2 linked regions of the Homo sapiens genome follow. The protein of the gene in region 2 interacts with the protein of the main gene of each other region in a pairwise test. Each region holds a gene or a part of one and is shown on either strand. Other genes may lie near its edges.

Region 1 (3,755 bases), on a different chromosome or scaffold from region 2:
TCATCCTCAGCATCAGTTTGCTAAATTGCCAGGCTCAATGACAAGCTCTCCTGCCATCTCCAAGCCCACTTTTCATAGTTCCGCTCTGTCTTTGGCTGCAGCACTTTAGGCACTATTCTAAGTCCTGGAGTATATCACTCTTGCTTCAGAGCTAAATAAACATTAATGAACACACTTACTCAGAACAAGTCACTGGATAGCTGCCCATTGCAAGTTACATACTCAGGAGATGAAAGAGGGAAGCCATTAAAGGTCTTCAGAGTAGACAATACCTAGTCAAGATGTGGCCAGACAAAGACACAAACTTCTTACCCTAAAAGAGCCCAATAATTTCTGCATCAGAGAACTCCTATCTTGGGCAAAGCAACTGAATTCAGGAGTGAGAGTTGATATTAAAACATGGAGGCTGGGCACAGCAGCTCATGCCCACAATCCCAGCACTTTGGGGGGCCAAGGCAGAAGGATTGCTTGAGGCCAGGAGTTTAAGACCAGCTTGGGCAACATAGCAAGACCCCATCTGTACAAAAAAATAAAAAGGAGGCTGGTGGGAGAACTGCTTGAGCCCCAGAGTTTGAGGTTACAGTGAGCTATGATCACATCACTGCATCCCAGGCCTGGGCGATGGAGCGAAACTGTCTCTTAAAAAATGGCAGGGAGTTGGGGAGCTGGGCAGGTGCAGTGGCTCATGTCTGTAATCCCAATACTCTGGGAGGCCAAGATGGGAGGATCACTTGAGCCCAGGAGTTTGAGACCAGCCTGGGTAACACAGGGAGACCCCGTCTCAAATATTTAAAAAATTAGTCATGCGTAGTGGTGCATGCCTGTGGTCCCAGCTACTTGGGAGGCTGAGGTGCAAGGATAGCTTGAGCCTGGGAGGACAAGGCTGCAGTGAGCTGTGATTGCACCACTGCACTCCAGCCTGGCCGATAGAATGAGACCCTGTCTTAAAAAAAAAAAAAAGGCAGAGGGACACACCAGTGTAGTAATGAGCAGAAGCACACAAATTTTTTTTAAAAAATTATATACACAAAACAACAGAACTAGAGTAGCTGACTTCTCCCCTTCTTTTTAAAAGTGAGACAAAATTCCTTAAGAAAATCTGCAAGGTGCTGGGTGAACCTTCTGATGCTAAAGTTGTTCTTCTGGAATATTAAAATTTGGGTATCTTTTGGACATCACCACCATGTAAAGAGTGATGGGAAAAAAAAAAAAGCTTTAAGAAATAAGTCGAAACTTTTCTAACACAAACTTATTAGAGCTATAAAGTGGAGAGAGTATAAAGCTATACTAACTGCATCACTAACCAGTCTCTTTTTTTTCCCCAGAAACTCATCTCAAGGGAAGGGAGCTGAAAAACCACCAGCAACGTGATTTCTGCATTTCCCAGCACATGGGTCTGGGGCCCGCCTCTCTCGAGTCCCCTAGTCGTCCTCGCCGCCTCCGTACATGTCAGCCAGCTTCTTGAAGCGATTGCCCCATTCGTTCAAGTAGTCATAGTCCTGGTCTTTGTCTGACTCTGAGGAGTTCAGGGAGCTCAGACTAGCAGCTTCGGAACCGCTTCCTTCATAGTCAAACACGAGCAGAGAATCATAAGGCGGGGCTGTGGGGTCAGTATCAGCCGCTTTCAGATTCTAAAGAAGAAGGGACAAAAGCATCTTTTAGTGAAAGGAAGGGCACACCTGTCATCTGGGGCAAGAAGTCTAGCAATATGTAAGGTACGACAATGCACCCAGACTTGTGGCACACCACGGAGCAGTGAACACCAACAACGTACATTTATACACACTGTCATGGAAGGATGCAGAAGCACAGGATATGTTGTTGATGGAAAGAGAAAGTGAAATGGTGAGTTATATGTAGGCAGGAGAGATGCAAGCACCAACCAGTCAGGATGGAGTCCCCATAGATCAGAGTGGGGCTGCCACACCACCAGCTGGGATGGGCAGAGCTGGAAGCTTTGCATACTGGTGCATGCAGGCTGCATTTCCACCCAGAAAGGCCTGGAAGGATAAATGCCAAATGCTTAACAGTTAAATCTGGGGAGTGGGGGTGTGGGAACTAAGGAAGGACTTGTATTTTTTTTCTTTTTCTTTTTTTTTAGAGACAGGGTTTCACTCTTGTCACACAGGCTGGAGTGCAATGGTGTGATTTTGGCTCACTGCAACATCTGCCTCCCAGGTTCAAGCGATTCTCCTGCCTCAGCCTCCCAAGTAGCTGGGTCTACAGGCATGCGCCACCATGCCCGGCTAATTTTTGTATTTTTAGTAAAAACGGGGTTTCACCATGTTGGCCAGGCTGGTCTCTAACTCCTGATCTCAGGTGATCCACCTGCCTCGGCCTCCCAAAGTGCTGGGATTACAGGCGTGAGCCACTGCACCCGGCCTTTTCTTTATATATTTTCATTTTATGAAATAAATAAAGTATATTTATTTATTTTGAGATGGAGTCTCAGAGTCTTGCTCTGTCACCAAGGCTAGAGTGCAATGGCATGATCTCGGCTCACTGCATCCTCCACCTCCTGGGTTCAAGCGATTCTCTGGCCTCAGCCTCCTGAGTAGCTGGGATTACAGGTGTGTACCCCCACACCATAATTTATATTTTTAAAATAGCAAGCATACTTAAAAAAAAAAAAACTTTTAGGTTTGGGAGTACATGTGAAGGTTTGTTATATAGGTAACAAATCGTAAACTCATGTCATGGGGATTTGTTGTACAGATTATTTCATCACCCAGGTATTTAGCCCAGTACCCAGTAGTTATCTTTTCTGCTCCTCTCTCTCTCCTCCCTTAAGCGAACCCCAGTGTCTGTTGTTCTCTTCTTTGTGTCCATGAGTTCTCATCATTCAGCTCCCACATATGAGTGAGAACACGTGGTATTTGGTTTTCTGTTCCTGCATTAGTTTGCTAAGGATAATGGCCTCCAGCTCCACCCATGATCTTGCTTCCTCAAAAGACATGATCTTGTTCTTTTTTAGCATACTATTTTTATAGTTTAAATAAAAACTGCAAATACAAGTGATGACTTGCAAATGAGTATGAATGGAGGAAAGGCCTGAATCCAGATGTATCTAAAAGGGGTCTGTAGTCAGGAGCGGTGGCTCACACCCATAATCCCAGTACTTTGGGAGGCCGAGGCAGGGAGATCACCCGAGGTCAGGAGTTTGAGACCAGACTAGCCAATATGATGAAACCCCATCTGTACTAAAAATAGAAAAAGTAGCTGGGCGTGGTAGTGGTGCCTGTAATCCCAGCTACTTGGGAGGCTGAGGCAGGAGAATCGCTTGAATCTAGGAGGCAGAGGTTGCAGTGAGCCAAGATTACGCCACTGCACTCCAGCCTGGGCGACAAGAGTGAAACTGTCTCAAAAAATGAAAATAAAAATAAAAATAAATAAATAAATAAAAGGCATGGTTAAACTGGTTTCTTTCTGTTTCTTGTTTTTTCCAGTGGCTAAAATGAATGTGGCTTGATCACTTCTAACACTGCAGTGCCTCACAGTCCTCAGTGACAGCTCCCATAGAAAGCTAAAGCAGTCCGGGCGTGGTGGCTCACGCCTGTAATCCCAACACTTTGGGAGGCCAAGGCAGGCAGATCACCTGAGGTCAGGAGATCGAGACCATCTGGTTAACATGGTGAAACCCTGTCTCTACTAAAAATAAAATTAAAAAAAAAAAAAAAAGCCAGGCTTGATGGCAGGTGCCTGTAGGCACAGCTACTCGGGAGGCTGAGCCAGGAGAATGGTGTGAACCTGGGAGG
Region 2 (3,755 bases):
GAATGGGGTGGTAGGAGTGTAAATATCTTGTCCTGAAAGATGTATGGCCTATATTCAGTGCTTAGTAGGATAGCAAGCAACCAGCAGGTCTTAGGAGACTCTGGCCATGAGGTTCTTAGCAGCTGGGAAGACTGATAACCCAAGACAGAGTTCCAGGTTCACATTATTCAGATGCAGGGCAGTTAACAAGGCCAAGAATTAGATGGAAAGAAACCAGGCCGAGGTCTAGGTACAGGTATACAAGGTGGGAACCAGGTTAGGAGAAGAAAAGATAGGCCCTTAAATTGAACTGGGACCCCAGTCAGAGGAAGTTCATAGCCATGTGGTCAAATGTCATCTCTCCCAGGCTGATGTTCCAAATACCCACTCCATGAAGGACAGGATTGTCCTATGAATGTGACATGATACTCAGCAGGCCAATGGACGAGAGAAGCCAAGCAGATGGCTACCAGCTCTGAACATTCACATTGCAATTAGCGTCTACAGCTCCTCACAGAAATATCACCAAGCCTGCCCCATCTGAATCATTTTATCAAGCAATTTGAAAAAGAAAACTTGAAATAATCAGTATAATTCCAATTTTGTTAATGTAATAATGCAAGAATGGGTCCTAACATATTAGTGATTATCCCTGATTAGTGGGGTTAAAGTTAATTTCAGTTTAGTTGTGAGCTACAGTGTTTTTCCTACCATAAATGTGCATTATTTCTGTGAGCAGGAAAAAAAATGGTATGCTTTCAAACTTGCTATATTCGTAGGTTTATGTGAACATGTTTATATAATATATAAAAATCTCTCCTTTAAATAGCAATCTATTTAAGAATAAGGGATTCTCTGGATAGGAAAGGCAGTACAGATAACCCAGGAGATTTCGTCTAAGCAGTAGTTCCTACAGTTCAGAACTCTTACAATTACCCAAAGAGCCTGTTAAAAATAAAGTCTCTCCAGAGATTCTGATTCAGCAGGACTAAGTGGTGCCCACCACTTGATTTTTTTTTTTTTTTTTTTTTTTTTTTTGAGACGGAGTCTCGCTTTGTCACCTAAGCTGGAATGCAGTGGCACGGTCTCGGCTCACTGCAAACTCCGCCTCCCTGGTTCAAGCGATTCTCCTGCCTCAGCCTCCCGAATAGCTGGGAATACAGGTATGCGCCACCATGCCCAGCTAATTTTTTCTTTTTTTGTATTTTTAGTAGATGGGGTTTCACCGTGGTAGCCAGCATGGTCTTGATCTCCTGATCTCACGATCCACCCGCCTCGGCCTCCCAAAGTGCTGGGATTACAGGCATGAGCCACCTTGCCCGGCCCCACTTGAATTTTTTAATATTCCCCCTAACCAGGTGACTCTGACAGATCGTATGAGACTCAAACTTCGAGAACACCTGAACTAGTTTATAGTCAATTATGCTGACAAAGATGACCATTTCTGTGTCATTTACATCTCTTTCACACCAGTTTAACTGCCACAGTGCTGAAAAATCATTCCTAGATACAATGATTTCAAATCTTTGGAAATATCACATAAAATAAAAACAAAAACATATAAACACGGGATGGGGAACAAATAAAAAGCGTTAGGTACTAATAGTGAATTGGAGAGAATCTTACAAGGATTATTTTAAATTATGAAATATTCTGAACAAACAATAGAGTGTAGAAAATACTGGAAGACATCCAGATTTAGGAAGTATCTAACAAAAGTAACATGATTTGGTCTTTTTAAAACTTACAGCAATTCCCGCACAAGATTCTCTGTATTGTTAATAATCTTGGCAAAATCTGATGACCTGTGACTCATTTCTGTGAAAGGAAAGATAAACAACAATAACAAATATTCCAGCTCAAAACCAAATGAACAGAAATACCTACGAAATTTGCAAGTAAACAACAATACAGGGAAATTTCAGTTATTCTGCATTCAAATTGTGGGCCAAGGCTCACTTAGTTTAGGGGACCATACAAACTGATTTTCAAATTGCAAACATTTTAGCTTTATAGTCATGGCAGAAGGATTTTTCAAGTGGTACATTCACTGAGCAAGTTATTTATTAATTCATCACTCCGTGATGCTCTCTGTGATTCTTCTTACCATCTCTTTCTCACAAACAGGAATCCATGTGCAACAGTTGCCCTTTAGGTCTGGAGCACAAAATTCCATGCTGTGATCTCACTTCACAGAAATCTAAGTATATGTCCCAAACCAACAGGAGCAAAATTTAACAGAAATAAGCAATATAGTTAACCCTATGGTCTCTTAATACCATGCAGTCTTCAGAACCGCCAAAAATAAAAGAAAATAAGTTTTAGAATGCAGAGGTCCTCTTCCCAAAAAATATAGGGGAAACTTAATAAGATTATCAATGTGCGAGGTCTTCATAAAAGGCTTATGTACTTTTAAACTTTAATGAGGTTGTATTTAAGTATAATAAAAACTGTAAATTGAATGTAAAGCAATATTATAAATGTTTGGAGGCACTGTTATGCAAATATACAGTATCTTCTGATCCTAAATCCTATGATTAGCAAAAACCAATTATGACAGGGTAAGCTGAGATGTCAGAACCTCTCACCAGCATTTATGCTATTTTCAAAATGGTTTCTATCAGACATGCAACCCAAGCTATTAAAGTTTAAAAATGTATCTATAAAGGCCTATAGGAAGACCCTATAGGCCCTGTAATTCTATATTTGATGCATTTAAATTAGTTCCCTTTGGGCCAGGGCTCAGTGGCTCAAGCCTGTAATCCCAAAACTTTGGGAGGCCAATGTGGGAGGATGGCTTCAGGCCACGAGTTTCAGATCAGCCTGGGCAACAAAGTGAGATCCCATCTCATGGGATCTTTAAAAAATGTTTTAAACATTTAAAAAAAATTAGCCAGGTGTGGTGATGTGTACCTATAGTCCTAGCTACTCAGGATGCTGAGGCAGGAGGGTCACTTGAGCCCAGGAGTTGGAGGCTGCAGTGAACTATGATCACGCCACTGTACTCCAGCCTGGGTGACAGAGCAGGACCCTGCCTCTAAAAAAAAAAAAAAAAAAAAAAGCTTCCTTTGAAACATGGACATTCACAGAATTCAAAAGTAAATCTTACCAAGAACACTAATGCCAACTCCTTTGTAGTCTAATAATTCCTTTTGTATCTCTAACAACACCTAGAAAAAAATAAAGGAAAATAGGGTTATTTAAATATGTTCTGCACTGCTTTCCCTCTGAACATACAAACCTGACGAGGGGACAAGGAAGGGTCTACAGTGAGGTCCCCAGGCTTCCATCCCCACCCACAGCCAGTCTCCTTCCTTCCCATGTCCACAAAGCCAGCGATTATGCAACTTACACACAAGGTAAGCATGAAATTAGGCAATGTGACTGATGTTGATACACTTTTTCCAAAGGCCCGAATTTACCGATTCCCTAGAAAATGTCCCCTTCACAAATCTCATTCACCACTCTCCTAAAGCTAAAGTAAAGAATGCATAAAGTTCTGGGTTAAAGGGACAACGATAAAAAAATTATGCCCAGATTATACAGGTAACTCAATTTTCCGATCTCTTTTGGTCTAAGGTGCTAGACTGGGAAGCGTGGGGTGGGCAGGAAGAAGGAAGAGCCTGCTGTGAATAAGATTCGTCCCAGGGTGCTGCAACAAGACTGGCACAATGTTGATAATTGTTGAGTCTCAGAGATGGGTCCTTGGAGGTTCATTACACTACTTTTATCTTTGTGTATGTGAGGATTCCCTTAATAAAAAATAAAGAGAAAAA

Evidence for each region. Proteins that work in one complex are often made in the same cells at the same time.
Region 1: the proteins of PSAT1 (region 2) and CDH1 interact in binary tests that used the Homo sapiens proteins (3 or more experiments, as listed by UniProt).

The regions. Positions count from the first base shown.
Region 1 is NC_000016.10:68,831,166-68,834,920, reverse strand, and holds part of CDH1 (cadherin-1 isoform 1 preproprotein), read right to left. Parts: intron 1,632-3,755; coding exon 1,422-1,631; 3' UTR 1-1,421.
Region 2 is NC_000009.12:78,299,996-78,303,750, reverse strand, and holds part of PSAT1 (phosphoserine aminotransferase), read right to left. Parts: intron 3,150-3,755; coding exon 3,089-3,149; intron 1,798-3,088; coding exon 1,728-1,797; intron 1-1,727. UniProt on the Homo sapiens protein: Involved in L-serine biosynthesis via the phosphorylated pathway, a three-step pathway converting the glycolytic intermediate 3-phospho-D-glycerate into L-serine.